4 linked regions of the Homo sapiens genome follow. The protein of the gene in region 1 interacts with the protein of each later gene in a biochemical or structural test. Each region holds a gene or a part of one and is shown in the gene's direction. Other genes may lie near its edges.

The links.
Region 2: the proteins of EPS15 (region 1) and SGIP1 form a complex in vitro, tested with the Homo sapiens proteins (2 studies listed by BioGRID, with this or other methods).
Region 3: the proteins of EPS15 (region 1) and NUMB form a complex in vitro, tested with the Homo sapiens proteins (2 studies listed by BioGRID and IntAct, with this or other methods).
Region 4: the proteins of EPS15 (region 1) and CORO7 form a complex in vitro, tested with the Homo sapiens proteins (one study listed by BioGRID).

Annotation. Positions count from the first base shown.
Region 1 is NC_000001.11:51,508,953-51,516,467, reverse strand, and holds part of EPS15 (epidermal growth factor receptor substrate 15), read left to right. Parts: intron 1-7,515. UniProt on the Homo sapiens protein: Involved in cell growth regulation. May be involved in the regulation of mitogenic signals and control of cell proliferation. Involved in the internalization of ligand-inducible receptors of the receptor tyrosine kinase (RTK) type, in particular EGFR.
Region 2 is NC_000001.11:66,529,094-66,537,431, forward strand, and holds the start of SGIP1 (SH3-containing GRB2-like protein 3-interacting protein 1), read left to right. Parts: upstream 1-5,059; 5' UTR 5,060-5,265; coding exon 5,266-5,275; intron 5,276-8,338.
Region 3 is NC_000014.9:73,280,504-73,288,018, reverse strand, and holds part of NUMB (protein numb homolog), read left to right. Parts: intron 1-704; coding exon 705-909; intron 910-3,644; coding exon 3,645-3,938; intron 3,939-5,513; coding exon 5,514-5,660; intron 5,661-7,515. UniProt on the Homo sapiens protein: Regulates clathrin-mediated receptor endocytosis. Plays a role in the process of neurogenesis.
Region 4 is NC_000016.10:4,406,130-4,413,644, reverse strand, and holds part of CORO7 (coronin-7), read left to right. Parts: intron 1-240; coding exon 241-337; intron 338-1,214; coding exon 1,215-1,289; intron 1,290-5,393; coding exon 5,394-5,464; intron 5,465-5,960; coding exon 5,961-6,144; intron 6,145-7,515. Other genes in the region: CORO7-PAM16 protein, read left to right, coding at 241-337, 1,215-1,289, 5,394-5,464, 5,961-6,144. UniProt on the Homo sapiens protein: F-actin regulator involved in anterograde Golgi to endosome transport: upon ubiquitination via 'Lys-33'-linked ubiquitin chains by the BCR(KLHL20) E3 ubiquitin ligase complex, interacts with EPS15 and localizes to the trans-Golgi network, where it promotes actin polymerization, thereby facilitating post-Golgi trafficking.

The DNA of each region.
Region 1 (7,515 bases):
CCACAGCTAACTGTATGGGTTTGGGTTAAATATCCAGGCCTCAGTTTTCTTAACTTTAAAAGAGACTCAACAAACATTTGCTGAGCATTCAGTATGTGCTAGGAATTACTCTAGGTACTGAGGATATATATACTCATGAACAAAAATAGTTAACAATTCTTTGACCTTGGAGACAAAACCTGGAACTTATTTCTGCTAGAGGAGTTTGAATTAGCTGATCTAAGGACCTTTCCAACTTTTAAGATCCTGTTTTATAGACAGTGTTCTATGATTTATAGACCTAGTGGACTTTCTCTGGGTTCTTTAGTGCTTTACAGCCTTAAATGTTTTCTAATTCAGTTGTCTTTACTAGGTGTTCTGTTTACTTCTTGTCAATGAGAAGTAAAACCTGAGGGAGAAAGATCTTGATTTTTGCTTCTGTTGGTAGATTAGAAAAAAAGCATGTAATACTTAAAAAAAAAAAGTTTCCAATAGTCAGTTTTACTCCCTAACGCCCATATCCCTAATAATAATAATACTGTTAACTTCCCTTTGGGAATTACTATATGCCAGGAATTTTACTACACTTAGAATCTAACGATATGTTTTACAAATTAGAGAAGCTAGTAAGTAAGCTAGTAAGTGGTGAATCTACGATTTGAACCAAGGTCTGTAGGACTTCAAAAGCTATTTCACTGTTCTTCTCTATGTACTAGATGCTTGGCCTATCCAACGCTCCCTTACATTTTTTGTTCTTTTTTTTCGGCATATGCCATTGTCTTAAGTAGTAAGCCTCTTGAGGATATAAGCCATGGTTTTTGCCTCTGAATCTCTAGTGCCTTTGATAATATCTTGGATGATACAATTGTGTGTTCAAAGTTAGTGCTATTGATGATAAAGGTTTTATTTTACTGAGATAGGATTTGAATATTTAAAATAGTCTTTTAGCAATTCAGCTTTATACTGGTTTTCTTGCTTTAGTTTAGCAAGAATTTTTTTTTTTTTTTGTTTTGTTTTGAGACAGGATCACACTCTGTCACCCATGTTGGAGTACAGTGGCATGATCAGGCTCACTGCATCCTCAACCTTGTGGGCTCAAGGGATCCTCCCATTTCAGCCTCCTGAGTAGCTGGGACTACAAGTGTGCATCGCCATGCCCAGCTAATTTTTAAAATTTTTTTGTAGAGACAGGGACTCACTCACTATGTTGTCAGATTCTTTTTTTTTTTTAAAGTAATAAAAAAGCCCTTAAGTAGGGACTTAATTTTAAAAATCCTAGTATATAAATGGTATAACAACAGTTCTAATGCTTTTTTTGTTAAATTACAAGAGTGATATAACTGTATTACAGAAAACTTGGAAATTAGAGGAAAACATCTCCCATAATTTCACAGTTTGTAGTGTTTATTTTCAGTTTCATTTTTTAAACAAGTACGCAGTACAAGTGCTAATAAACATATCATCTTAGTAGTCTGGTTTAACAATTATGACAGTAAATACAGGTTAGTTTGAAAATGACAACATGTTCTCAGAAGCAGAAAAGTGATATTGTTCTCAACATGACAGATATTTGAGTTCCTACAATGGGAAAGGCACATTAATGATGTTTTTCTTTATTGCCTATAATTATGGTTCGATATACTCAGGAAATCTCTTGAGAGAGATATCTAACCCTTCTCAAAGATGGCTTGAAATGTTCAGCACTTGGGAGAGGTTGTCATAGTTAAAATTAATTAGGAACAAGTTCATCCAATAGCAAGTCTCTCAGGAATAATCTAAGAGTGCATTCCTTTGTTTTCACTCTATTTGCAGACAGAATGCTAGTAACAGACTAACGTGTAATAGAAAAAGATTGAGTATCATTAGCAACGAATCATAGTTCAGAATCTCTGCAATCTCTAATAGTGTGATTTTAAAGGCCTAATCTAAGATATTTTACTTGTTCTTTAGGGAATTACAAAAAGCACTTTATATACTTGTTTGTGAGTTTGGGGCTTAATAAAATTGGGAGCAGAAAAGATAACTATTGGGTACTGGGCTTAATACCTATGACACAAGTCCACTGATGTAATAAACCTTCACATGTACCCTTGAACCTAAAATAAAAGTTTTTAAAAAAAAAATCAGTACTCTGGAAACCAAAACCAAGTAAATGGCCTGAGAGAGATCTGGTTAGTTGGAGAACTGGTAGAAATAATAAACGAAAAGTTACTCCAGGCAGAGTTCATTAGGCAAATTCATATGCTGGAGTTTCATTTTTAAAGCAGTTGAATCAACAAGGTATGCCTTCATTAATTATATTTATTAGGTGTTTTTAATAATCTGAGGAATCTTGTAAATTGAATGCTGTATTACAGTAAAGTGAACTTTTTTTATTTAGACAAATGATCTAACCCAGTTAAGCATGCGTAGAAGAAAGCCTGGAAGAAAAAAAACACTAAAATTTTATAGTAGCATGGTTGTAGTTTTTATCTACCTTGTTTTCAACAGTGAGAATGTATTCCTTCTGTAATCAACTGATTTAGCTTTTCTCTATGGCATTTTTGAGAATTTATTCATTTAAATTGAATACACAATAACTACGTGTAAAGTAAAGCTTTGTGTTCTAAGATTGTGTCTACACTTAGTTTTCATCCTAAACATTTAGAGAAATTGATTAGAGGAATGATAATAATTATATTAATTGATTTGGACAATTCAGTTAGAGGACTAATTTATAATTTTTTGTGCTGCTTTATAACTTAACAAAGCGTAACCTATGAACTAAGCTATTATTATCATCATTTCAAATTGGAGGATACTGAGGCTCAGAATTTGGGACTTAGGTTTTATAGTTAGTAAATTAAAAAACCAATATAAATTCATGGTTAAAAAAATTCATACAATGCTAGTGAAGTCTTCTTTCTGCTTTAGGCCCTCATTTGCTTTCCCAGAGGCAGCCATTCTTGCCAGTTTCTTGTGTGAATTTCCAGTAATAGTCTGTGTATATGCGAATAAATATATATGTATACTGTATATGTATATTCTTTTGTGTAAGCTGTTTATTGTTTCACAGTTTGTTGTTATATTATTTTTAGCTTAACTGATTTAGGAGATTGCTCTATAACATCACATATAGATCTCCCTTATTGTTTTCAAAACCTCAGGGTATTTCTATATGTGAACTTACTGTTATTTATTTTACTGGCCACCTAATGCTGGACATTTATTTTGTTTTCAATCTTTTGTTACAACTATGCTGCAGTGGATACTCTTTTACATGTTTTTGTGCACATGTGTGAGCATATGGATTAATTTCTAGTAGGTGTAATTTTTGGGCCAGAGGATACTTTTAATCTGCATAGATACTGCTAATTTGGGGTAGGCATAGTGGCTCAGGCCTATAATTCCAGTGCTTTGGGAGGCTGAGGCGGAAGGATTGATTGAAGCCAAGAGTTCAAGGCCTGGGTAACATAGTGAAATCCATCTGGGACAAAAAAAAAATTTTTTTTAATTAGCTGGGCATGGTGGTGTGTGCCCGTAGTCCTAGCAGGCTACAGGTGAGCTATGATTAGCAGGTTACAGTGAGCTATAATTGCACCACTGCACTCCAGCCTAGGTGACAGAGCTAAGACCCTGTCTCCAAAAAAAAAAAAAAAAAAAAAAGATATTGCTCATTTACATTCAGAAACACTGTAGCAGCACACATGTTTGAGAGTGTCATTTCCTCCACAGCTTGATCAACATGTATATTATTGTCAGTCCAGTAATCAGAAAGATTTCAAACAATTTCATTGTTTTAGTTTGTTATTTCTTTATGGGTAAGGCTGAACTTATTTTTTTTTCCTTTGAAACCATTTGTATTTCTTTTTTTATAAACTGCTTTAGTCTTTTACCTGTTCTCTTGATGGGCTGTTTGTCTTCTTTCTCACTGATTTGTAAGAACTCTTCTTATATTTAGGAAATTTGCCCTTCTTTGCAAAATCCTTTGCAAAATTTTTTTCTCTGAATTTTTTTTTGTTTTTGGCATTTTTTGATTATGTAGAAATATTTGTTTTATATGTTTAATTTGTCAGTCTTTTCTCTTAGAGCTTCTGCAAAATCTAGATTTTTAAACTTCAGGAGCAGAGGCAGACTAATATAACTGCAAGAGCACACCTGTTCTGCCCCTGAGTAGTTCTGTGATCTTGGGCAAATTACTTAACCTCTTAAGTGCACTCATTTGCATATTAGAAATAAACTACTGAGACTTCTTGGGTATTATTGAGACCTCTTAAGCATGTTGTGATTACAAAATGAACTGGTGACTTATTTTCTTTAGCTACTCCTGTAGTTTCCCAATTTGTTAAAAGCTGGCCTTGTACCCTGCCTCATATACTCTGCTTTCCTATCACATAAATGTGAACTTCTGAATATTTTGTGCAAAAGTAGGATAGAAATGAGGTAGAAGAAACTCATTTTTGTGATATAAATAAGGCTTTCAAATGAATCAGAGGTGCAATTAAAAAATAAAAGTTGGGCTCTTTTTAAAACTTGTTTTTATGTGGTAAAAATATACAAAGAAAAGTAAGCCTCACTTCCTCCCTCCTTTAAACTGGGGATTATTACAATGGGAATATAACAGTACCAGGAGTTTTTCATCTGAAATAATCAAACTGCTTATTCCTTACTAAATCTGCAATAAGAATACAAATTTGACCAAGAATGCTAGGATAAGAACATATTTTTTGGAGGAAGACGTTTATATTACAGTACTTTATAGTTTTTTAGATCATGGTTTCTCAGCCTTGGCACTTTGAGATTTTGGGCTGGAGAATTTCTTGTTGTGGGAGGCTGTTCTGTGCATTGTAGGGTGTTTTGCAGCATCCTTATCCATTAGACGTAACACCTTCACCAGTTGCAGCAATCAGAAATATCTCCAGACACTGACAAATATTTCCTAGAGGATTAAATTGCCTCTGGTTTAGAATCACTGGTTTATTTATTTATTTTTATTTTAAAGTTTTAGTACTTTTGAGAGAGAGTCTCGCTCTGTCGTCCAGGCTGGAGTGCAGTGGTGTGATCTTGGCTCACTGCAACCTCCACCCCTGGGTTCAAGCAATTCTCGTGCCTCAGCCTCCCGAGTAGCTGGGATTACAGGCGTGCATCACCACGCCTGGCTAATTTTTTTTGTATTTTTAGTACAGATGGATTTCACCATGTTTTCCAGGCTGGTCTCTATCTCCCGACCTCAAGTGATCCTCCTGCCTTGGCCTCCCAAAGTATTGAGATTATAGTGTGAGCCACTGCGCCCGGCCAAATCACTGGTTTAGATATATACTTATTTATTTATTATTATTTTTTGAGGCGGAGGTCTGGCTCTGTCGCTCAGGCTGGAGTGCAGTGGTGTGATCTCGGCTCACTGTAACCTCTGCCTCCCGAGTTCAAATGATTCTCCTGCCTCAGCCTCCCAAGTAGCTGGGATTATAGGCGCCCACCGCCACACCTGGCTAATTTTTGTGTTTTTAGTAGAGACGGGGTTTCACCATGTTGGCCAGGCTGGTCTCGAACTCCTGACCTCAGGTGATCCTCCCTCCTCAGCCTCCCAAATTGCTTGGGATTACAGGCGTGAGCCATCGTGCCCGGCCTAGATACATACTTTCTGTGGTCCATTAGGACATACAAGATATACTTTCTAGGGGTGAGGACAGGGGAAAGAGTTTATCTTCATATTTTTATTCTTAAGCCTGCCATGAGCCATGATTGACTCCTTGTGCATAAATATTGAGCTTAAAAAACTTAAATGAGAAGGCAACCTGAAATTGTGAACTTAATTTTATGTGTGATTTCTGTGCCTTTTTTAGTGTGATCTCCTCCCTCTTCCGGCTCCACTGTAGTTTGGAAACTTAGTGTGGTCTTCTTTTAGTTGTGGAACAGTTCTATCTAGTGGGCTAAGTATCAATACAGAGATCCTGGAAGGAAAACATTCTTATGCCACTGTTGAGAAGGAAGAGGACTGATGCTTCTAGAACACCTAATAAATACTAAATACTTTTAGATGATCTACATACATTATTTCACTTAATCTTCATAGCCTTTCTACAAGTAGGCATTAATCTTCTGTATTACTTGCTCACGGTTGTATTTTAAGTGGGAGAGTTGAGACTTGAACCCAGGCACATCTGTTCTCCAAGTACATTTGCTATGCTGCTTCCTATAGTCATTGATGATATTTCAGTCAAATTTTGGGATAAGAATGAACATTCATGTGATCTTACATTCCTCTATTGTTATGTAAAAGAAATTATCCAGTGGTGTGTGTGTGCGTGTGTTTGTGTGTATTGGGGAGGAGGTCAATAGTGGGATAATAACAATAATACTTACTGAGCACACTTACGTGTCATGTGCTATTTTCAATAATCTTTACAACCTGATGAACCTTTCAGTATTCTTTACAACTTGGTAATCCTTATATCCCTGTTTTACAAAAACAAAACAAAATAAAAAACTGGGACACAGAGGTGAAGTAATTTGTTCAAGGTCAAACTGCTGCTAAGTGGTAGAGCCAGAATTGTAACCCAGTAGTCTAAGCAACTCGGATATTGATTGAATGAGTCTGCATTTTTAAGGGCAAAATGGCTCTGACAGAGCTTATTGTGGTACCATTCCTTGGTTATAGCTGAACATATGTTGTAGGCTACTACATCTTCCTATGTGAAAATCAACTTATCATTGCATACACCACATCTCTAGAAAGTGATTGTTGCACGAAGTTATAGTGGAAAGTTTTTGTAGACATAGTAGAAGGTAGTTTTTCATTTTGCAACCTCCAGATTTATTGCTCATGAAAATCTAAGCTTGTCTAGGTTAGTGTACATCATACCAATATTTACTTTTAAGCTAATATTCTCTCAGACATGGTTATTTGGACTTGGAGTTTCTACAGTATTGTATTGCTAAAGATAAAATGTATCAGAGACTCCCTATAAAATAGACTTTTATTGACTAAAACCTGGAACCATTAGCTGTAATGATTTCTGATCCTCAGATGAACATTTTTGAGAACTAGCATAAAATAATGAGAGAGATCTTGGGCTCTGAAGTTAGAATGTCTTAGGTAAATTGATAGATTTTAGTTATATGAGCCATTAATTTTTATGAAATGTTGCACTTAATTAGAATTTTGATGGATCATTTATACTAAGGATTATTGATAACTTCATTCCATCTTTTGTTCTGTAGGTACAACATAGATATAGCATTATGCATATATAAAAAATATGAAATTATATGCATTAAAGGTGCTTCCAGTATTGATGGTTGATCCTCTGTTTCAGAAAACATTTACTAGATGCCTCCTGTGTGTCACTACTCTAGTAAGCCTTGGACATACAGAATAAGACCATGACATTTGCTCTGAAGTAGCTTTTGGTTTTTTAGGGAGATAAACACTGACTTTCTTGTGTGACAAGTACTGTGATAAAGGATGATAGAAGTAAGGCAAGGGGGTGCCATGAGAGAATACTGTGATTATGATGAAACTTTTGGTGGTAATATAGTTTTTAATTATTTAATGGT
Region 2 (8,338 bases), about 15 Mb from region 1:
GAAAAGCATACAAGGGCATGTCTTGTCTTTGGCATAAGTGGGCCAGCACATAGAGTCTTCCCCCCAGGGAAACAGGAGCATGACTACAGGTTCTGCTGGTTTCTCTCTGGATACAATCATATTATGGGTTCTGTTTGCCATAGAAACTTGTGTGTATATATATATAGTATACACACACACACACACACACATATATATACACATATATATACACACATATATACACACATATATATACACATATATATATACACATATATATATACACATATATATACACACATATATATACACATATATATATATACACACACACACATACATAGGCACAGTAGTCAGCATATGACAGTCCAATGTAAGTTTTGGTTTAAAAAAAATCTATCATGAGAACTCATCAACATGGCCCCCAGTGACTGGTTTGAAAAGTGAACAATGATCCAAGCCAGGTCAACCACAGTCCTTCCCTGGAAGTTTTTTGAAGGAGATCTAGCCTAGTAAATCTGTGAAGAGGTGAGCTTAGAGGATGCTAATGGTCAGGCCTGATCATGTGGAGAAAAATTAGTAAGAGAAAAGGAGATGACATGCTGGAAGAGACAGAGAGAGTTCTGAGTACTTGGTTCAGGTAACAAAATTTCCTGGATTGTCCTGGTTCTTGCTTTCCCTCAGCTGTTCAGTTCTTGCTATAATTCTATGAGCTACCTCAATAAATTCCATTTTTGCCCATGTTAGTTGAAGTTGGAGTTCTTTTATTTCAGCCAGGAATAGAGTAACTATGGGAACCCACACACACACAAATATATGTATCTCTTTTTCATCTATATCATCTCATGGAATTCCAATTTTTCAGTCTTGCCAATTTCCAGGACTTGGGCAACATATTTTTCCATCTACATTCACTGAATTACCTCAGTGGGGATAGCAAAAGGGGCAGAGTCAATTGTCATGTTAAGAGCACTACCTTGGAGATACACAAACACATACACAAATCTGGATCCATATTTTAATGCTAATTTTCTTTCCTCCTTTCTTTGTGACTCAATTCTCATTGTCTTCTTTCTCTTTCTAAAATATAAACAAATTTCCCCTTCAACCTAAAATTGGGAGATAGTGAAGAAGCTCAGCTTTTATAGTAGGAATATAATAAGATTTCATTCTGAAACACTATGTAATCAGCCATTACTACCATACAAATGTTATTTTAGAAAAAATGTTGAATGTCTAGTGACTTCAGCAATTTAGTTTTTGGTCTTGGACCAGTCATAAGTACCATATCAGAGCCTGGTATGATCTGGGTTGACATTCACATCCTGAGCTGAACTCCTGAGCAATTCTTGCACTTTGATGCAAGTCAGTTATTTACCCAATCTTTTCCATATACCATTTGACTTTCATTTCAGAATTGCAAAAAGTATTCCATGGTTTTGGAGGCTAGATATTCTCCTTTGCCCTTGCTGGCAAGCAAAAATTATACGATGAAGTGATAAAATTTGAACCACAACCTAAAGTATTGTCTTTGTTCTTGATCAAAACAATTTTTTTTTCAAAAACCTATGAGAGGCCAGGCATGGTGACCCACACCTGTAATCCCAGCACTTTGGGAGGCCGAGGCTAGTGGATCACTTGAGGTCGGGAGACCGAGACCAGCCTGGCCAACATGGTGAAACCCCTTTCTACTAAAAAAAAAAAAAAAAAATCAGGTGGACATGGTGGGGCATGACTGTAATCCCAGCTACTCAGTTGGCTGAGGCAGGAGAATAGCTTGAACCCAGGAGGTGGAGGCTGTAATGAGCCAAGATCTCACCACTGCACTACAGCCTGGGCAACAGAGTGAGACTGTCTCAAAAAAAAAAAAAAAAAAAAAAAAAAAGAAGAAGAAGAAAATAAAAAGAAAAAAACCTATGAGAAAACACCACAATTAGGATAATCTCTTTTGATTACATATTTGAGCAAATTTTATTGAAACAGAACTTCATTCATTGGATGTTCTATTGGATATGCTATTGGTAATAGCATCTTCTTTTTAAAGGATAAAATACACACAACTGATGAAGTTGCGGTGAAGTTTAGCCTTTGGGATTAGCTTTACCACCTTGAAATACACATCCCTTTCTGACAATATCTACAAACTTCTGCTTTTCCTATAAATAGTCATTGACCAAAAGAATCTTTCCATTGACTTGCTGTCTCTAGATAGTTGCTGCAAGTCTAAAAAAACTTGAAGTGTACCCATACCAAACCTATCTGAGAGGATTGCTCTAACACACTGTAAAACTTACATTGGGAGGAAGAAGGCAGGCAGCCTGGGTTTCTCCACCTTTCCCTTACATCCTAACAATGGCCCCCACTCCTGCACCTCAGTGCTTGCACTCACCTCCAGATTTTACATGATACTTTTTTCTTACTTACAACTCCCTATATTCTTTAGAACTACCACTTCAAGCCCATTCCAATTAAGTTCTGAACTCTGAAATTTCACCTCTGTAAAAAAAAAAAAAAAGTCTTTCCTAATTAACCTCATTAGATTTTGATTTCCTACTTAGCAGCCTTTCAGAAATCTCCAACATGTTACATCTTTGGATGCATCACCTGGTCTTTCACTAACTTGTTCTCTGTGCATTTGGTACAACTCCCAGTTGGCTGCAAACTTCTTTGATGCATCTGCCAGCCCTTTGGTAGTAATAATACTAATACTAAAAAGCTAACATGCAGGTCTTATTATGCTCCAGACAAAATGCTAAGTAATTTACTAGCAGAGTATTTGAATACTGTCTGGCACATAGTAAGCCATTAATACAGGTTTGTTATTATTACCATTTATAGCTCAATTAACTTGGCATTATTATTCTCTCCATTTCAGGATAAGAAAACTGTGAGGCACAGAGAATTACATAAATTGCTCAGAGTCACAGAGCTCATTATGTGGCACAAACAAAACTTGGTGCCCATCTATTTGACACGAATACCCATCAATGTTCTTAATCATTACAAAACATTTGCTAAACACACACACACATGCACACACACACACACAAATCAATCCTTTTTGCAATAATACCCCTCCAGTTTTCAGAGCAGTGTAAGTTGTACTCAAGGCAGGTTTTACTTAGGAATTCATTCCCCTTTTAAAATTTAACTGTCTTAGAGACATAAGAAAAAAGTCACAAGTATTTGTATCTCCCTGAAGAATTTCATTTTAAAATTTAGAGGCCACTGAAGTATGTGTCCTTAGGGAGAACAATGGGTTTTTCAAAACTTCTAAATTGCTAAGGAGCTGTGTTTTGCTTTTCAACTATTAATATGCTACTTCAGTCAGTCACCAGTACGTCATATTTGCTTTGGTAGAAAGAGCTAGGCCATGTCCAGGGCTGAGCAATAGAAAAAGTTCATGAGTATATTGCTAATAGAAATGATTAATAATACATTACAGGCTCAACCCTGATCATACCATGCATCTTCTTCCAGTTATTTTGAGTACATTTTCATTGGATGCTCACAATTGCTCTCTATTGTAACAGCTTTTCTCCTGGTCATACTGTGAGATTATACAGGGAGAAATGCCCACTTCTGATGTTGTTTTTCCTGAGTTCTAAAGAAGGCGTTCCCTTTCCTCCCATCTCCTTTCCTTTTTCTCTGCCTTCTCTCTCTCATAGGCTGCCCTGCCCTTTTCTTCCTTCGCTGTCTGAGCTTTCTTGAAGGGAACCAAGGGTCGTAGATCCCCCAGGGCTGGGCCCTTCTGAAAGGCTCCATGGTCTCTGGAGAGCAGTCAGGTGACAGACTGAACCCAACCGGGCCCAGTGACACAACTTCCCACTTAGGCAACTACACAGCCCCCAGATCCCATTCCTGGCAGCTTCAAAACCCTGGGCTCCGCCACAACCAGGCACAACTGCCTCCCTCCAGGTTTCCACTTGGGTGAATGAATAGGCTTGAAGGCGACTCCAGATGCAGGAGGCGCGTCGCGGAGAAACGTGTCATTTAGGAGAAAGTTTGTTTCCTACAGAGACTGCAGTTGGCAGCTGCAGCCCCAGTCGGTTGCGAGAAAAGCTCCCCACCTGGGGAAGCGAGGCCGCTCCCGTGTGCGCTCGGCGGGGAGGACGCGGTGGCGGCGGGACTCGAACTCGGTCGTCGAAGGGCGCCCCGCAGGGTCCCGTCTGTAGCCCGGACGGCGAGCCCAGGTTGGAGTGGGAGGGAGCCGGCGTGCACAGCTGTCTTTGGTCGGGCTCAGGCTTCCGCTCCCTGCCTGCTCCCCTTTCCAGCCTCCCGCCCCAGAAACGATCTCGAGCGTTGCCAGTTTGATTCCAGAGCCCCACTCGGGTGGGTTCTTTTGTTTCTTTGTTTTAATGACAGTTCCCAGCCCTTCAGCATGTCATGCGCAATTAATTCCCTGGCTCTCACGAAGGCAGCTGGGGTGAAATTTCTTCTGCATCATCCTTTTGGGGATGTTTATGATGTGACGTCAGTCGGATTGATTTTTCTCTCTTGAATGAAGGATGGGAGGGGAGAAAGAGAGACGGAGAGAGAGAGAGACGCACAGATGTGCACGGAGGCCACAGACACTGACATTTGGAATTCCTTCAGGGTAAAAGGACACCGGAATGGGAGCTTAGAAGTGTGTTGCTAAGATTTCCGGCTGCACGGAATTATTAAGTTTTTCTTAAAAAAACAAAAAAAGAAAGAAAGAAAGAAAAAGAAAAGAACCCCCTCCGCAGCGAGCCACTTAGGTGCTGCTTTCACGCCAGAGTCCCCTGTTAAGGTGGCAGCCCTTGATAACTAATCTCGGGCACCCAGCCGCTTCTGTAAGCTTAAGGAGACGACGAGGAGGGGCGGGGGAAGTGCGTCACCAGGTGGGGAAGGGGCTGTGTATTTGGTGACAAGCGGGAGGCGATGGGGGTGGAGGGGAATGGGGACGGGAAATAGGTTCTGTGTGCTCTCCGGGGGTATTGTGTCAGGAGATGCAGGCTGGCTACCATGTGACGCGGTCCAAAGCTGAAGGGATTGGCCGAGGCAGCGCAGGCGGTGCAGCTCGGCCAGCTTGCCGTTCCTCTCCCTTTCTCTCAGCATCTTCTTGGTAGCCTGCCTGTAGGTGAAGAAGCACCAGCAGCATCCATGGCCTGTCTTTTGGCTTAACACTTATCTCCTTTGGCTTTGACAGCGGACGGAATAGACCTCAGCAGCGGCGTGGTGAGGACTTAGCTGGGACCTGGAATCGTATCCTCCTGTGTTTTTTCAGACTCCTTGGAAATTAAGGAATGCAATTCTGCCACCATGATGGAAGGTAGGATGCTTTCTGCTATGGTTGACTGGCTTCAGGCAAGGTTTGGGCAGAACAGCATTAAAGAATATGTGCAGCCAGTGTATGTGGCGGTTCTAGAACCTGGTTGCCAATGTTTTGCAAGCAGAAATGCTGCAGTTTGCTTGCAGTGGATCTGGGCTCAGACTAATGGAATCAAACCACAGGGCTGCTGCCTAGCTCAGAACCTACAGAGCTCCCAGCTCCTTTGAGAGAGAAAAGCCTAAAGTGTTTGCAGGGAGCTGAGATGGAGCTAGGAAAGAGCTTGCAGAGCAAATAAGTTGGGCGAGAAGATAAGGTTTTCTGTTCTGGGTTCCTGGGACTACACTGATTAAACATTTACAATGGAAACTTGTTTTCTGAAATTGACATTAGACAGGAGAGGTCATTAACAGAGTTATCCATACAGACATTTTCAGTGAACTGTTTAAAATTGTAAAAATTCTCATAAGGTATTTTTATCTCTGCAGTTTACATCATATTATTGGGATGGGGAGGGCAGCAAATTTGGTCCATAAACTGTAGTTGTATGAGAATGTCATTGCAACAGAATGAAAAATATAAGGAAAATATCCGGGCCTCTTGCCTCCTGATTCGGGGTCTTATCAGGTTAAAAAAGAATTTTGTGCTCCCTAAATGCTTTCCCTGTCCAATGGATTTTAGCCAAGTATCAAATGATTATTTGCTGATGATCTTTTCGCATATTCAATATTGAGTGTAAGGAGGAACTTTCCCTGGAGAGATGCTATTTAAACTATATTTTATTCTGCTAAATTACCCTTCCCAGTCTGACACTGTGACAGCCAAGATTGTCTCCAAAAAGCAGCAAGCTGATCAGGAAAGAAGCAAGCAGCTCTATGCAGGCTTTGATTTTCTGTTTTCACACTATAGGATGGTGCAAAACTCCTGGCCTTTCCTAAGATGACAGGCAGAAATTTGTCCCCAGCCTGGATTTCACAATGCAGAATTGAGTGCATAATGGGTCTCAAATCAGCCATGAAAATGGCAGAGAGGCCACCTCTTAAGCCAAGGTTTGTCCTACGGATTTTAACTATTCCTTAGAAATTTACCAAAATGGAATAAGAGGAGGAAGGTTTCATAAAAACAGCAGTGTAGCCTGTACTTATTTGGCAGAAATGAATTCTTTTTGCTCTCCCTGTCATCATGTCAAACATTGTTAATGTGATTTGGGGGAGTGAAGAATTCTAGAGTCAAAACCCACAGATTTTAGAAGATAGCCTTAAAAGAGAGGTTGGGTATGATTTTGTTATGGAGCTGAGTCTTGTTTGCAAAAGGCTCTCAAGCTAGCCCTTTAAATCCAGGCCTAAATAAATTGAGATTGCTAACACTCTCAGATTAAATCATTTTCATTAATTCAAAATTGATTTAATCTTTGAATAACAAGGCAAGACAGAGTGTTATTTATGCACTTTTCAATTAAAAGCTCATGTGGATTATCTTCTTCAGAAAAAATATCTTGCCTGTAGAGGTACTGTATTTCTCCAGCTCAACTTCATATAGCTTTCTTAAAAATGCATCTGCACACATTCTGATTAGATTTCAGTGTTGCATAGAGAATTGGATGCTCTTTCTTTTCACTTCTTGCCTTGCAAACCATGGCACTAAAGTATCTTCTTTGAAGGTTGTAACGTTTTTTGATGCTCATGAATGATTCTCCTGGTAATATGGTCTATTGTGCCATCCAAGAATGTCAGTTCAAAGCTCTGTGATAAGCTTATCCAGGCTGCCTAAACCAAAATGAGAACTGCAACAAAGACTTGTGCTGGAGCTGAATTAGCACTATTGCTCTGGGTTTGCCAAATTTATCTAATGAACAATGTTATCTTAGCACTGGTATGAATTAGTATGAATTATACTATGGATACAGTTGTCTTTCACCAGATCTTTTGCAAGAGAAATTGGACAGGTGTTCCCACTGGCTTAAATAGCTAAATGAAATTAACATTTATTTCTACCCATAGCTCCTACTTAAATGTTTTTAAGCCTTATTATCTTAATAGTTCGGTGACCTTAGAAAGGCAAATAGGAGTTTAACCAAAAATCAATTTGCTATCAGTTGCCTTCCAACTTAGTTGACAGTCTTTTTGGCAATATACATTCATGTTTCTGGTATTGCATGGCAGAATTTCACCTCTGAATTGCTCTTATTCTGAAGGTGTGGTATATAATTATTATTTCAACTTAACTCATCTCTAGAGATTGCCAGCCTCTGTACATCTACCACAATAACCTTGGAAAGATAAGGAACCTCATAAAAGGCACCCCAAATTTGTCATGGCAGCTCTTCGTTGAAACATTAGTGGACTCTGAGAATGTGCTACCAAACATCTAGTTAAAATCATATTTCTTCTGAACTAGTGTGTCTCACACACACACAGAGTCATCCACCCAAACACATTTCTGGAAAGGAAGAAAACATATATTTGCACTCGTGTGGCTGTACATTTCTATATTGCTAAAGTGTTTTAGTCTGCTGCTCAGAAAAAGCATGGCCATGGCAACTTTTCAAAGGCACTTCTCTACTTTGTGTAAAGCAAGAGTAAACAAATATTCAGCAGAATGGGTCATAGTAAACTACGTTTTGTTTGTGTGGAACAGGATATAGGCTCCATTCATTCAATGCCTATTGGAAATCCATCCAATCATAGATGATAAATGTTACTACCTCCTCAGTGATCCTAATTTTGTGGAAGTCAACGAAATAATTCCCCAGGGACCACAAGCAGGTGATTAGTGGTTTGTGGCTCCATGGTTCTTTTAACATATTTTAATTAAAAAACATATTTTAGGGGACTTGATTTGCTGCTTCCTGCATACTTTATCTTTTGGCAGTGGTTGGCATTGAGTTGTTTCTTTTCTAAAGAAAGCCACATGATCTGGAGCCTTCTGTAGTATAAATATGAAAGGAAAGATGATGAGCAAAGGGAATTATTAACTATGGAGTGTACATATTGGCTAAGCTTACAATGAAGTCTATGTGGTTAGGGCAACTATTCAAGGACTATTTTTTGATATATTATTATTAAA
Region 3 (7,515 bases), on another chromosome or scaffold:
TCCAGTAGTTTCTTAGAAGTGGCTGGTAAATATTCCCACTGCTTCCCCAAAGGGCAACTAGAAGCTTGCATGTCAAGGCTTGAAACCTTGCATAGAGTCTTCTAAGCTGTTGGCCAGGGCTGACATGACAGAGCCTAAGTGATAAAGAGTTCTCCATGGCTGCTTACAAAAGCACAGGTTGCTGGTTATCACTTTACCCCAAGGCTTGTAACAGTGAATTGAACCATCATAAGCACTACCTTAGAAAATTTATTCATTTAAATTAATATGGCATACTAATCTATTAAAACAATTTTAAGCTGGAATTTGCAACATCTTGCTTTCATAAAAACAGACATTTGGGCCGAGTGTGGTGGCTCATGCCTGTAATCCCAGCACTTTGGGAGGCTGAATTGGGTAGACCACTTGAGGCCAGGAGTTGGAGACCAGCCTGCCCAACATAGCAAAACCCCATCTCTACTAAAAATACAAAAATTAGCCAGGTGTGGTGGTGCGTGATTGTAGTCCCAGCTACTCAGGAGGCTGAGGCACGAGAAGTATTTGAGCCCGGAGGCAGAGGTTGCAGTGAGCAGAGACTGCGCCACTGCACTCCAGCCTGGGTAACAGTAAGACTCTGTCTCAAAAACAAAACAAAACAAAAGACTTATTTGTATGTAATTGTTAGTAGTGTAATTCTGAAAAGCTTTTAAAATCTGCTCTTACAGGGTGAAAGGTTGAGCCATGCAGTAGGCTGTGCTTTTGCAGCCTGTTTAGAGCGCAAGCAGAAGCGGGAGAAGGAATGTGGAGTGACTGCTACTTTTGATGCTAGTCGGACCACTTTTACAAGAGAAGGATCATTCCGTGTCACAACAGCCACTGAACAAGCAGAAAGAGAGGAGATCATGAAACAAATGCAAGATGCCAAGAAAGGTACAATCTGTTCTACAGTGTGTATTTATGGAATGCAGTTTTTCCCAACAAGGTATTATTTTGAAGCTACCAGGGGTAAATTTTCTCATAATCAAAGAGAACCCTTAGCAATATAAAACCTTATAACAAAGTTGAAAATCTTAAAAACCGCTTCCTTTAGAGTGGCTAGTTTAATGGCTTCAAAAATATTTACTCCATTATAGTAAGCTATCTGAGGAATCAGAGTGCAGTTGAAGAAGCTGCAGAGACATCTCTTACCCCCTTCCTCCCATCCTGAAATACCTTTTTAATTCTGATGTATCTGATCTCTTTGAGAAGCAAATGAATCAAGTACCTGCATCTTAAAGGAAGCAGCAGAGGTCCCAGGGCTTAAGGCTGCAAAGCATCCACGGACTATGATGCTAGCAGAGAGATTTAACAGTAATACTGTTTATATGATATTATTGCTGTTTTTTAGTGCTTTCTAGTCACAAAAGTCTATAGATTTTGAGAGGTAAGCCTATAACTCTTTTTTTCTATAGCCCTGTTAATTTAATTTAGTGTGTGATTTTATAGAGTGTGAGTTTTATTTAGGTACACATGGCATCACAGCAGAAATGCCTGTACAAACATTCAAGTTAGTTGGCAGTCTATAAATGTGAGTTGGGTATATTTTACAACTAAATGATAGGGCTTGAAAATACTTTTGAATTCTTGTATATAAGTAGGGTTAAAACCAACAAGACAAGCACAAACAATTCAAGTTAACTAATAGACATTAATATAATTTTGAGGCCAGGTATAGTGGCTTACAGCTGTAATCTCAATACTTTAGGAGGCTGAGGAGGAAACATCACTTGAGGCCAGGAGTTTGTGACCAGACTGTGCAACATAGACTCTATCCCTTAAAAAAAAAAAAAAAAAAAAAAAAAAAAAAAAATTGCCATATTTGGTGGTGCACATCCGTAATCCTAGCTGCTTGGGAGGCTGAGACCAGAGGATTGCTGGAGCCCAGGAGTACAAGGTTACAGTGAGCTGTGATCATACCACTGCACTCCTCCAGCCTGGGTAACAGCAAAACCCTGTCTCTTAAAAACAAACAAATATATATATATGATAATTTTTTTTACTATAACCTTTTAGTTCTAAACTAGTCATTTTTGTTGTTGTTGTTTTGGTTTGATTTCGGTGTTTTTTTTTTTTTTGAGACAGAGTGTAGTTCTGTTGCCCAGGCTGGAATGTAGTGGCGCAGTCTCCGCTGACTGCCGCCTTCACCTCCTGGGCTCAAGCGATTCTCCTGCCTCAGCCTCCTGAGTAGCTGGGATTACAGGTGAATGCAACCACACCCAGCTAATGTTTGTATTTTTAGTAGAGATGGACTTTCGCCATGTTGGCCAGGCTGGTCTTGAACTCCTGACCTCAGGTGATCTGCCTGCCTTGGCCTCCCAAAGTGCTGGGATTACAGGTGTGAGCCACCGCACCTGACCTTAAACCAGCCCTTTTGGTTAGCATCATTGACTAATACTGACCCAAACAGCTCTAATTCTTAAGCCCCCTCCAAAAAAAAAGCATACATATTTTTATTTGAAATGAAATTATTGATAGTGATTTTTTTTCATTTCTTGTAAATATTTGCACCAGGAAGCCAAAGGGGGGAAAAATCATGCTATCTGTACTAGAAAATTTAACCTGTATTACTGTTATCTAATATGCTTTAGTGGTCTTCAGACTATTCACTAATTAAGCATGTTCTTTAATACCACCAAATAATATTCATTGTTATGCACAACAACTGCAAAGAGATTGAGTCCCAAGATCTACAAAGGATTGTGAGAGTTGGTGGTTGAGATTTGTCACAATCAGAATGGGACTCAACTGGTACCCACAGTCTTACATTTACTCAAATTTAATCCAGTTCAAAATTTTACTACTGCATGCTTTTATTCAAATGAACCACAAATGCATGATTTAAAGACTGCTTTAGGTCGGGCGTGGTGGCTCATACCTGTAATCCCAGCACCTTGAGAGGCGGAGGCAGGTGGATCACCTGAGGTCAGGAGTTCATGACCAGCCTGGCCAACAATGGTAAAACCTCGTGTGTATTAAAAATACCAAATGAGTTGGGCGTGGTGGTGTGCACCTGTAATCCCAGCTACTTGGGAGTCTGAGGCAGGAGAATCACTTGAACCTGGGAGGTGGAGGTTGCAGTGAGCCAAGATGGTGCCATTGCACTCCAGCCTGGACAAAAAGAGCAAAACTGCATCTCAAACAATAAATAAATAAATAAATAAATAAATAAAGACTGTTATATATGACATTCTTTGACACCTAATCAAAGATATATGGTTAAGCTTATGCTTATTTAGACCTTTCTAATGCTACAGTTCCCAAAGTTCTCCTCCCCTAACACACAAGCATTGAAAATCATGAATCATTCTTTAAAAGACTACATATTAGGAATTCATAGGAACTGAGTTTTTAAGATCTTTTTCACAGTCTTAATTTATAAATCACTGAATGAGAATAAAAGATCTAACATTTCTGTCTTAGTAGATATGCTTTGTGACATATAGTACATTACTAAGCCTTTTATCTGTCTGAAAAATGGATCCGAACCCTGCTTCTAACTTATGTTTTAAGAGACACTGGGAAGGAAATGGGTAAAAGGACCTAGAGGGCTTTCGAATTTGTCAGCTCTCTAAACGCAAATTATTTGAAGACATTGCTAAGGTCTTCATTCTCTTTATTTTCTTGAGCTGAAACAGATAAGATAGTCGTTGGTTCATCAGTTGCCCCTGGCAACACTGCCCCATCCCCATCCTCTCCCACCTCTCCTACTTCTGATGCCACGACCTCTCTGGAGATGAACAATCCTCATGCCATCCCACGCCGGCATGCTCCAATTGAACAGCTTGCTCGCCAAGGCTCTTTCCGAGGTTTTCCTGCTCTTAGCCAGAAGATGTCACCCTTTAAACGCCAACTATCCCTACGCATCAATGAGTTGCCTTCCACTATGCAGAGGAAGACTGATTTCCCCATTAAAAATGCAGGTAATGTAGCATCTACCTGACTCACTGGGTACTCGAGCACTGAAGCATTCTCATCACTTCCCATGAAGACACTAATCCCATTAAACTAGGCATTCCTCTTTCCCTGAGGTTCGTTGATAGTTGTATCTTTTGTCATTTCCCATAGTGGGAAAACTAAGGTCCGTGGAGGGGGATGTGAATCCATAATTTCTCTTCAACAAACAGGCAGCAGAGCCATTGTGGAATTTCTAGCCTAAGCCATAAGATTTGTGGTTTGTCCTGATGTAAGTGCATTCACTGCCTTTCAGCCAACCTGCTCCCAAACATCAAGGGTCTCAAGTTTCTATTCTTATTCTGCCATTGGGACCCAGCAGGGAATTAATTAAAGAGGCCTTAGAAACACATAGCATTACCAGCAGAAGAAATGGATATGTGCTCATTGTCCTTCTGGCTGGTTGGCTCCATAAGGAGGAAACTCTAGACAGGTCTTTCGTGTACATCTAAGATCTGTTGTTCATCACAGACAGTGGACTTGTTCACAAGTATTCATTACCTTTCAGAACCGTCTCACAGGCCTTTGTGTGGCCTCTGTACAGCTATGCCAGCCTCTATAGGTCTATCCTCGTCATAAAATCTGTAGCTAAAGTATTAGATCTGGTCAGTGCTTTTGTTGGGCTCTATTTTACTTCCCTCTGAGACATGTCAAGCCATTGCTATAACAAAATATGAGGAAACTGTCTCAATAGGCCATTCCTACTGATGGTATAAAAGTACAGAGAGTTAAGTTCATCTGACAGATGAAACTAGGCCTAAAGAATAGTTGGACTAGATGATTACGGAGGGTCTTTTCAGTTCTCAGCTGAGGTACCTCATTTCAGTTCAGTCTCCTTCTAGGGCAGACAGGGAATAAAAACTATTATTCTCTTTACAGATGAGCAAACAGAGCTTTAGCACACATAATTAGCTTCCTCAGTGATACAGAAGTATCCTAGAGTCAGTATTAAGAATAAAGGCCCTAGCGTCCTACACCTCTGCTCACTTTTTCATGTTATCATAGATCATATGCTTAGTACTGGAGACTTTGGAGAAAAATGAGATTGATGACATTGTCATAGTTTGTTACAGAGAAAAGCACTAAGCATCCACTAGTGCCCAGACTTGAACCCATTTTCCTGACAGAATTACTAAAGGCTCCAGAACCTAATTCAGATCACAGTCTTGAGAACACGTTGGAAGGCATACAGGTTGCAAATGTCTTCTACAAAGATCTGGCTAGCTGAACATCTTGGCACAAAAAGGACAGATCCTCAACAGTGTTATAAGAAGAAGAAATGAAGAAATTTGGGGATTTGTAAGGGAGGAAGATGTGCCTTAGTACATTAATTGTTGACATTTTATACTTTCCCATCTGAAAAGCCAATGAAATTGTGGCCAGTAAATTTTTTGAAACTGGTTTTGTAGCCCTGCCATACAGTTAATTGAGCCTTTTCTTACATAAGCAGGAGATACAGTATAAAGTGCCAGCTTGCATCATACTGTCAAATTTCAGGATTATTCCATTTTTCTGTCTGGAGCCATTTTCTGTTTGCCTTGCAGTGCCAGAAGTAGAAGGGGAGGCAGAGAGCATCAGCTCCCTGTGCTCACAGATCACCAATGCCTTCAGCACACCTGAGGACCCCTTCTCATCTGCTCCGATGACCAAACCAGTGACAGTGGTGGCACCACAATCTCCTACCTTCCAAGGTTGGTGCCCTCTGACCTGCTCAGCTGTTCTCTTTACAACCAGTACTTTTAGTACACTGCTCACTAACTGTAAGTTGGCATCCTGAGCTTCCCAAGGCCTGGTCAGACCCATTAATTTCTCTATTTGATGTCTTAGATTCATTGATTTCTCCATTCGACGATGTCTTTGTGCCCTTCCTGTTTTCTAAGATGTCTGTGTTTGTCATTCTGCATGTGCCCATCTTTCACCCCATTCTATAAGGAATTTCTGTAGTCCCAACCTACTGCCTTATTTCCCACTTGACTGTTAAGGATCAGCATACCCATCCAGTTTCCCAAAAGCAGTAGTCATCAGAATTGGTTCAAAGGTTATGCTTTCTTTAGTGTAGTGGTTCTCAACTGGGGCAAAGTTTGTCTTTCACTGTCTGGAGACATTTTGGGGCTTTACAAGTTGGGGGTTGGGGGTGTTACTGGCTTGTGGTTAGATGCCAAGAATGCCACTAAACATCCTTCAGTGTAGACGACAGCACCCACAACAAAGGATTATCCAGCCCAAAATGTCAGTGGTGCCAATGTTGAGAAGCCCTGGACTCACCTAGTCTCTGCCCTGTCAAAGAGGCTAATAAAGAAAAAGGCACTCCTTTGAGCTCTTTAGTTCATCTTCTATAACAAGTGTCTTAAAATTTGCCTTTGTGGCATTGAAGAGTTAAAAGTTGTTTTCAGAGATACTGACTAAATAGTGGATATTGACTCAGAGGTCAGCAAAGAATTTATGTAACTTAAGTTACAGACTTGTAGAATTTGAGCTGCTATAATTGCTGTTTCTCCATTTCTTTTGAAAGAGAGCTCAGCGGAAGTTTTACTCCAGAGATAGTGCCCTGCTTCTACTGGAAGAACTACACACTTTTTCTCCAAGGGTCTTTTTCTTTTTCTTTTTAATAAACCTTCATAGTCATGTGTACCAAATGACTTTTCATGTCATCTAACAAACATTTATAATACCGGTAATAATAGGCACCATTTATTGAGCACTTACACATTGCTTGCCACATTGTGGTAGGTATTCATGCATTATTTCATTTAATCCCCACAACAAGCCTGTGAGGTAGGTGTTACAGATGAAAAAAAAAAAAGAGGCTCAGAGAGGATAAGTAAATTGCCCAAATCTTACAGACAGGATTTAAACTCAGGTCCTCCTGAATATAGTACCCGTTACATTCTGCTGATTCTGCCAGCCTACAAGGCACTAAGTGTGCAAAATTGAATATTTCAGTTTCCTTTCCCTGCCTTTAGAGGGCTCCCAGTTTCTAGGTGAAAAAAAAAATTTTTTTGCCACCAAAAAAGCAAAGGCAGTCTTTTAGACAAACTCTAGGTAAACAGTACCAACACCGGCTGGGTGCGGTGGCTCACATCTGTAATCCCAACAGGGAGGCTGAGGCAGGCGGATCACCAGAGGTCAGGAGTTCGAGACCAGCCTAGCCAACATGGTGAAACCTCGTCTCTACTAAAAATACAAAAGTTAGCCGGGCATGGTGGCAGGCACCTATAATCTCAGCTACTCGGGAGGCTGAGGCAGGAGAATTGCTTGAACCTGGGAGCCGGAGGTTGCAGTGAGCCGAGATCACACCATTGCACTCCAGCCTGGGTGACAAGAGCGAGACCCCATCTCAAAAAAAAAAAAAAAAAAAAAAAATAGTACCAACACCATAGGCATGGCTGTCCAGTCCTAAAAAGGATATAATTATATTGTAGGTCAGGGGAGGGTGCTTGTCTACACCAAACTGAATGTTATTGAGAGCTGGGCTAAGGAGAAGAAACTAATATAGGTATCTGGAGTAAAAGGAACAAGGGTTAGCAGATTTTAACAAGGGGAGAT
Region 4 (7,515 bases), on another chromosome or scaffold:
GATCACTTGAACCCAAGAGGCAGAGATTGCAGTGATCCAAGATCGCGCCACTGCACTCTAGCCTGGGTGACAGAGTGAGACCCTGTCTCAAAAAGAAAAAAAAAGTAAATAAAAGAATGCATCTCGAATGGTGCAGCTGTGAGCTAGAGTTCCCCAGATTATGCCCCACCTCTTGCTTTAGGCATGCATGGAGGTGGAACCCTGGCTCTCACCACATACTTCTTTACTCTTGATTTTCAGTCCTGGATCAGTGACATTCGAGCAGGAACCGCCCCTTCATGCAGGAACCACATCAAATCAAGCTGCAGCTTGATCGCCTTCAACTCCGACCGTCCTGGTAGGGAATGGCCATGAGTGTGGATATTTGCTCACATATTCGGTCATCGTCACCATAGATGGGGTGGGGAGCAGGGGCAGGCTTGGTGTATTTGGAGACTTGGAACGGAACTGCTTTGGGGGGCTCAGAGGTGAGCCCCATGCCAGACCTTAGACCCCCACAAACTGGTCCAGGCGCAGTAATCTGATTGCTTTTGATTAGGACATATGTGTGTACAAACCACAGGCAAGAGCATGGCCAGGAGGGCTGGGAGGGGACTGACGCTTGTATTTCCAGCTGTCCCTCTGTGCTCCCTGCTCCTCATCTTTGGGCCCTGGATGGCTGGGGACAGTAGGAACAGAAAGGCTTGAAAAGCCCGTGTGTTGGTTGGCACTCTCTTGATTGCTAGTGGTAACTCAGACCCTCAAGCTGGCTTAAGCAAAAAATGGATAATGTTTCAGCCTAACTAAGAGATCAGGGGCTTCAGGCAGATCGGTGCCCAAAGGCTCACATGTACTGTCGGCCCTGACCTCTCTGGGTCTCTCAGCTCTGCCACCTTGGGTGTTGGCTTCTTTCTCAAGTAAAAGTGCGAAAAGTGGCTGACGGTAGCTGCAAGCCCCATACGAAAGCCCCACGCCCCTTTCGTATGACCCGTGTTAAAAAGAGAGGACCTCTCGCCTAATGTCTTCTGTATCCATCTGAGGCATGGATGGCTCATGCATGGGGCCAGAACCTACCCACAGGCCATTGCTACGTGCAGAGGATATGATCTTGTGATTGGTAGAGGCTCTGGGAAGGTCCGAGGCTGAGCTGCTGGATTTCATCTCTGGGATCCCTGGGCAAGGAGGTGGGTGGCCCTGTGGGGCCTGAAGTCAGAGTCCCCGTGTTTGTTTAACAGGTGTACTGGGCATTGTGCCTCTGCAAGGCCAAGGAGAGGACAAGCGACGCGTGGCCCACCTGGGCTGCCATTCAGGTGAGTGGGTGTCTGACTAGTGGGTGAAGCCTGAAACTTGCACCTCCCTCTCCAGGGCCAGAAATTCATCCTCACCTGGTCCCACTGCCGCATGGCTTGCCAGGTCCCTCCTGTCGCCCTGTCTGTGCACTCTCTGAGAGACAGTGGGGCTCAGAAGGCTTCCTCCTGGTGTAGAATTCCGGCCTGGGCAGTGAGGAGGGAAGCTGTGTGCTCCGGTTGTGAGCTGGATGGAGCGGGGTGTGCAGTGGCCGCCCCAGGCTCCAGGCTGATGCTGGCTCCCTGTCCCTGCCGAGGACTCCACGTTGGATGGCTCTGAGCCCTCCGTCTTCTGCTGGAGTCCCCTCTCCACCAGGCATCCTCCCCAGCCCAGCCGCTCGGGGCCCTCCAAGGAGGTCGCTGTGTTGGGCTGCAGGGGTGGAGATGGGCCCTCACAAAGAGACCTTTTGTGTGCCGCAGCTGCTTCTGGGGGCGTCCAGCAGCCTGCCTGGCAGGCTGTCCGCCTCGAGGGAACAGTTTGCTCGCCTCAGATGGAGGCAGAGCAGCCCAGCTGGCCTCGCCTCTCACTGTCCAGCTGCAGCGGCCGCGGGCCCAGTCTCTCTGGCCTGCATTTCTGGCTGCTTGTTTGGAGGCCTTCGGGTGAGGGAAGGCAGTTGATGCCTGGTCCTCAGGCTGGGTGTGCAGGGTCGTGGAGGGGTTCTGATATGATAATGATGGTGGTTAATAACAATAGTAAAGATTTATGGAGATTGCTCTCTGTACTAAGTACGTTAGCTGAGTTTTCTCATCTAAACTTTTTTAAAAAATTTTTAAAAAGTATATAGAGACGAGGTCTTGCTATATTGCCCGGGCTGGTCTCAAACTTCTGGGCTCAAGCAATCCTCCCAAGTCAACCTCCCAAAGTACTGGCATTACAGGTGTGATCCACCAGGCCCAGCCAACGTTACCTGTTTTTTGTTTGTTTTTGTGACAGGGTCTTGCTCTGTCACTCAGGCTGGAGTGCAGTGGCATAATCATGGCTCACTGTAGCCTTGACCTCCTGGGCTCAAGCAATTCTTCCACCTCAGCCTCCCAAGTTGTCAGGACCACAGGTTTATGCCACCACCCCTCCAGCTAATTTTTAAAAATTTTTTGTAAAATGGGGTCTTGTTATGTTGCCCAGCCTGGTCTTGAACTCCTGGCCTCGAGCTATCCTCCCGCCTTGGCCTCCCAAAGTTTTGGGGCCCCGTCAGATTACCTGTTTTAAGTAAAGAGCCTGATGATTCTTATTAAAGTGACCGAGTCATGTGCACTGCCATCCAGTTTTGGAACGTTTCCATCATCCCCAAAAGATCCCGCATGCCCCTTTGCAGTTAATCCATTTCCACCTCCAATACCACAGCCTCAGGCAACAGCTGATCTGCTTCCTGCCTCTGTGGCAGAGGTCTGCAAACTACTGTCACGGCCAGATCCAGCTGGCTGCCTGTTTTTGTAAATAGTTTTATTGGAACGCTGCCACGCCCATTCATTGATGTATAGTCTGTGGTTGCTTTCTTGCAACAACTGCAGAGTTGAGTTGTGACCGAGACTGTTGAGCCCTGAAATCCTAGAATATTTACCGCCTTGCCCTTCGCAGGAGACGTTTACTGGCCTCTCCTCTATAGAGGGGCCTCTTTTGCGCATCTCACGCAAATGGAATCGCACAATACACGGTCTTTGGAATCTGGCATCTTTCACGTAGCATGTTGTTTTAGAGATACATGTGTGTGGCAGCTTGTATAACAAGTCTGTTCTCATCTAATCTCAGATCTCTTTGAAGTAGGTTTTAAAACAACCCATTTTATAGCTATGAAAACTGAGACTCCTGCAAGGTTAGGAACTTACCCATTGTTATGGCAGGGCCAGAATCAGAACCCAGGTCTATAGGAGCCTGTGTTTGGGTTTGTCTTTTTAGAGACAGGGTCTCTGTCTCTGTCATCCAGGCTGGAGTGTGGTGGTGCAATCATAGTTCACTGCAGTCTTGAACTCCTGGGCTCAAGGGATCGTCTATCCTCAGCCTCCCTAGTAGCTGGGACTATAGGCACACACCACCATGCCCAGCTGATTTTTTTATGTTTTGTGGAGATGGGGTTTTGCTGTGTTGCCCAGGCTGGTCCTGAACTCCTAGCCTCAAGTGATCTTCCCACCTTGGCCTCCCAAAGTGCTGAGATTATAGGCATGAGCCAATGTACCTGGCTTCATGTTTGACTTTTTGATGCTTTTTATCTATGAGGGAGCTAGCCCAAGTTGGTGATGCTTGCAAGGTGGTGAGCCCTCTGCTACTAGGGCTCTTCAAGTAGAAGCTGGACCAGGGTCCTGTAGGCAAGTCCATAGCCTCACTGTGGCTGCAACTGTTCAGAGCCTTGCCTGCATGAGCAGCCCTGCCGGGAAACTGCTCATGGGAAGGTGAGCTCCAGCACCCCTGGAACCTGCCCTAGAGGCACCAGGTGCCCTTCTGCCTCAGAGGTGCCGGTGTCGGGAGAAATGGCCAGGTGGGGCTCTGGCTGTTGCCCTGCCTTCAGAGGCCCCTTCAGCCTCTCAGCTCAGGGCCACTCTTGCCCTTCCGCCCAGCAGCCAGGGGAGCAGAGGGTGAGCAACTTCTGGGTGCGTTTCTGATGTCCAGGCTGTGGGGCGGCAGCTGGGGCCCGCTCCAGTGGGAAAAGGCAGCAGCATGTCATGCTGAGCAGCACAGGTTCTGAAGCTGGCCCTGTCTCTTAGCCGCGTGACTTGGGGCAGTTACTCACCCTCTCTGGGTTTTGGCGTCCTCATCCTCCAGTAGGGGATGCTGCTGCAGTGCCACCTGCTGCATCCTTATGAGGATTCAGTGAGGTCCCTGCGTGTCAACCCCTGGGCATCTGTGGTGCCAGCACATGCTGAGCACTCAGATTGCTTATGTCATCACATCTCATTCACGCCTGAGATGCCAGCCCGCCTGTGCCAGCTGCTACACCTGCCCAGGGACCTGCTTTGCCCTGCAGGGCCCAGCAAGCACACCCCAGAGTGAGGGCAGCAGGGGTTCTGTGGCTTTAGGCCCAGGAATGTTGTGGTCCTGCCAGCTGGGATTCCAGGCCAGGGCTATCCCAAGATGTGCCTGTGCACGTCCGTCCTATCTTTTCCCTGTCTCCTGAGGCCGGGAGGAAGACAGTCCTGCTCAGCCCTGTTGGGAGGCAGACAGCAGCAGGTGGTCGCTGTGCTCCCAGCTCTGGTGATACCTCTCGTCCTGTTCACACCCCGAAACCCCGCCACCCTCCATGCCTAGTCTCTACCTCCCCAACCACCCACCGCATTTCCCTCTGGGGTCTGGCTCACTCTGTGCACCCCACCTACCCCTCCCCACCTCTGGAGCTGAGCCGTTCAAGTTCTTAGTATTTAATTTTTGAGACAAGGTCTGGCTCTGCTGCCCAGGCTGGAATGCAGTGGTGTGATCTCTGCTCACTCCAACTTCTGCCTCCTGAGTTCAAGCAATTCTCCTGCCTCAGCCTCCTGAGTAGCTGGGACTATAGGCGCCCGCCACCACACCCAACTAATTTTTATATTTTTTGTAGAGACGGGGTTTCACCGTGTTGCCCAGGCTGGTCTTGAACTCTTGAGCCCAAGTGATCTGCCCACCTTGGCTTCCCAAAGTATTGGTATTACAGGCATGAGCCACCATGCCCGGCCACCATTCAGGTTCTTTGGTTGCAAAGAACTAAAGCCAACTCCGGCTTGCTTAACCAAAAAGCAATTTCTTAGTTGAGTCCTGGGGACCTTCCACGACTGAAGGAGCAGTGGGCTGTGCTGCCCTAGGAGGGGTCGGGCTGGGCAGCTGCGTTCCTGCAGGTGCCTGGTGACTCAAGCGGCTTCCTGCCCATTTCCTGCCAACCTCCTGATGCCAGAGCCCTTGGCCACCCTGGGTCAGCAGGGCCCTCGGGGACGTATGTCGCAGGAGGGGCCTGTGGCATTTGCCCCCATGGTGTCCAGAGGGCCCTTGTAGACTTGTAGCCTGTTTCTGTGTGCACACAAAAGTGTCACCTCGGAAGCCCTGGGCTTTGCTTCATACTGGGTTGGAAACAGGACATTCCGGTGGGTTCAGCCATTCCTCTCCCACAGACCTAGTCACCGACTTGGACTTCTCGCCCTTTGATGACTTCCTCCTGGCCACAGGCTCGGCTGACAGGACGGTGAGTGGAGCCAGTTGGAAGAGCTGCTCTATGTCCCAGCCCGTAGTCCAGGGCCTTCTGAGCCCCAGCGCCATCCCCACAGGGCTCTGCTGCCTCCCAGTCCAGCCCCACCCCACTCCCCAGGGCTGCGGGGCTGGTCTGAATTCCTGGTCCCACACTGGCTCCCAAGGGCTTGCTTGGAGCCGTGGCTCTGACCTGACCTGGAGCCCGAGGACAGCAGGTGGGGATGCTGCCAGAAACAGTAGAGCCACTTCCCCAACTCTGGGACCACACCGTGTGGTCTAGGAGCTGAGATTCCCTCCCTCCTTTCTCGGATGTGGGGTATGCAGCCCCTGGCCCAAGCAAGCTGAGGCGGGTGGGCGCTCCTCCCAAGGCCAAGGTGTGTGGTCTCCTGGAGCAGCCTAGTTCCAACACGGGACCTCACTGGGGTCACGGCAGCTGACTCAAGGCAGTGAGGCCCTCAGCCCTGTGCTCACGGACTTGGTCTTTCTTGCAGGTAAAACTCTGGCGACTGCCAGGGCCTGGCCAGGCCCTGCCCTCAGCACCCGGGGTGGTGCTGGGCCCCGAGGACCTCCCAGTGGAGGTACTGCAGTTCCACCCCACCTCTGACGGCATTCTGGTGAGCGCAGCAGGCACCACTGTGAAGGTCTGGGACGCAGCCAAGCAGCAGCCCCTGACAGGTACAGGCCACCCTGGCCTGCCCTTCCCAGGGCAGCCCCACTCTGGACAGCACTCCGTTTCTTTGTTGGCATGTTTAGTCACATAAATTTAAAAACAGATATCAAAGTTTTACACTTACATAGTATAAAAGTCTTAAGATTCTATGAGGCTGTAATAAACACCCCATCTCTCTTTGCTCTCCGTAGCCATCAGTTTCATCCTCTTACCTGTTTTTTTTTTTTTCTGTTGTTTTTCTCCATTTAAAAAAATAATGGCCGGGCGCGGTGGCTCATGCCTGTAATCCCAACACTCTGGGAGGCCGAGGTAGGTGGATCACCTGAGGTCAGGAGTTCAAGACCAGCCTGGCCAACATGGCAAAACCCCGTCTCTACTAAATATACAAAAATTAGCCGGGCGTGGTGGCACACACCTGTAATCCCAGCTACTCAGAAGGCTGCGGCAAGAGTATTGCTCCAACCCAGGAGGCAGAGGTTGCAGTGAGCCGAGATTGCACCACTGCGCTCCAGCCTGGGTGACAGAGTGAGATGCCGTCTCAAAAAAATAAAAATAAAAAATAACTTTGGCCGGGCGCGGTGGCTCACGCCTGTAATCCCAGCACTTTGGGAGGCCAAGGCGGGTGGATCACGAGGTCAGGAGTTCGAGACTAGCCTGGCCAACATAGTGAAACCGCGTCTCTACTAAAAATACAAAAACTTAGCTGGGTGTGGTGGCGGGTGCCTGTAATCCCAGCTACTCAGGAGGCTGAGGCAGGAGAATTGCCTGAACCCAGGAGGCAGAGGTTGCAGTGGCTATGGAGAGCGAAGAGAGATCGTGCCATTGCACTCCACCCTGGGGGACAAGAGCAAGACTCCATCTCAAAACAAAAAACAAAAAACAAAAAAACCAAAAAAAAACCTTCTTGGATGGGCGTCGTGGCGCACACCTGTAATCCCAGCACTTTGGGATGCCAAAATGGGAGGATCGCTTGAGCCCAATATTTTGAGAATTAGTCTGAGCAACATAGTGAGACACAATCTCTACAAAAAATTAAAAAATCAGCCAGGCGTGGTGGCGTGTGCCTGTCTGTGTCCCAGGTACTCAAGAGGCTGAGGTGGGAGGATTACTTGAACCCAGGAGGTGAAAGCTGCAGTTAGCTATGATCACACCACTGCATTCCAGCCTGGGCAACAGAGTGAGATGCTGTCTCAAAAAATAATAATAGGCCGGGCACGGTGGCTCATGCCTGTGATCCCAGCACTTTGGGAGGCCGAGGTGGGCGGATCACTTGAGGTTAGGAGTTCGAGACCAGCCTGGCCAACATGGTGAAATTCCGTCCCTGCTAAAAATACAAAAATTAGCTGGGCATGGTGGCAGGTGCCTATAATCCCAGC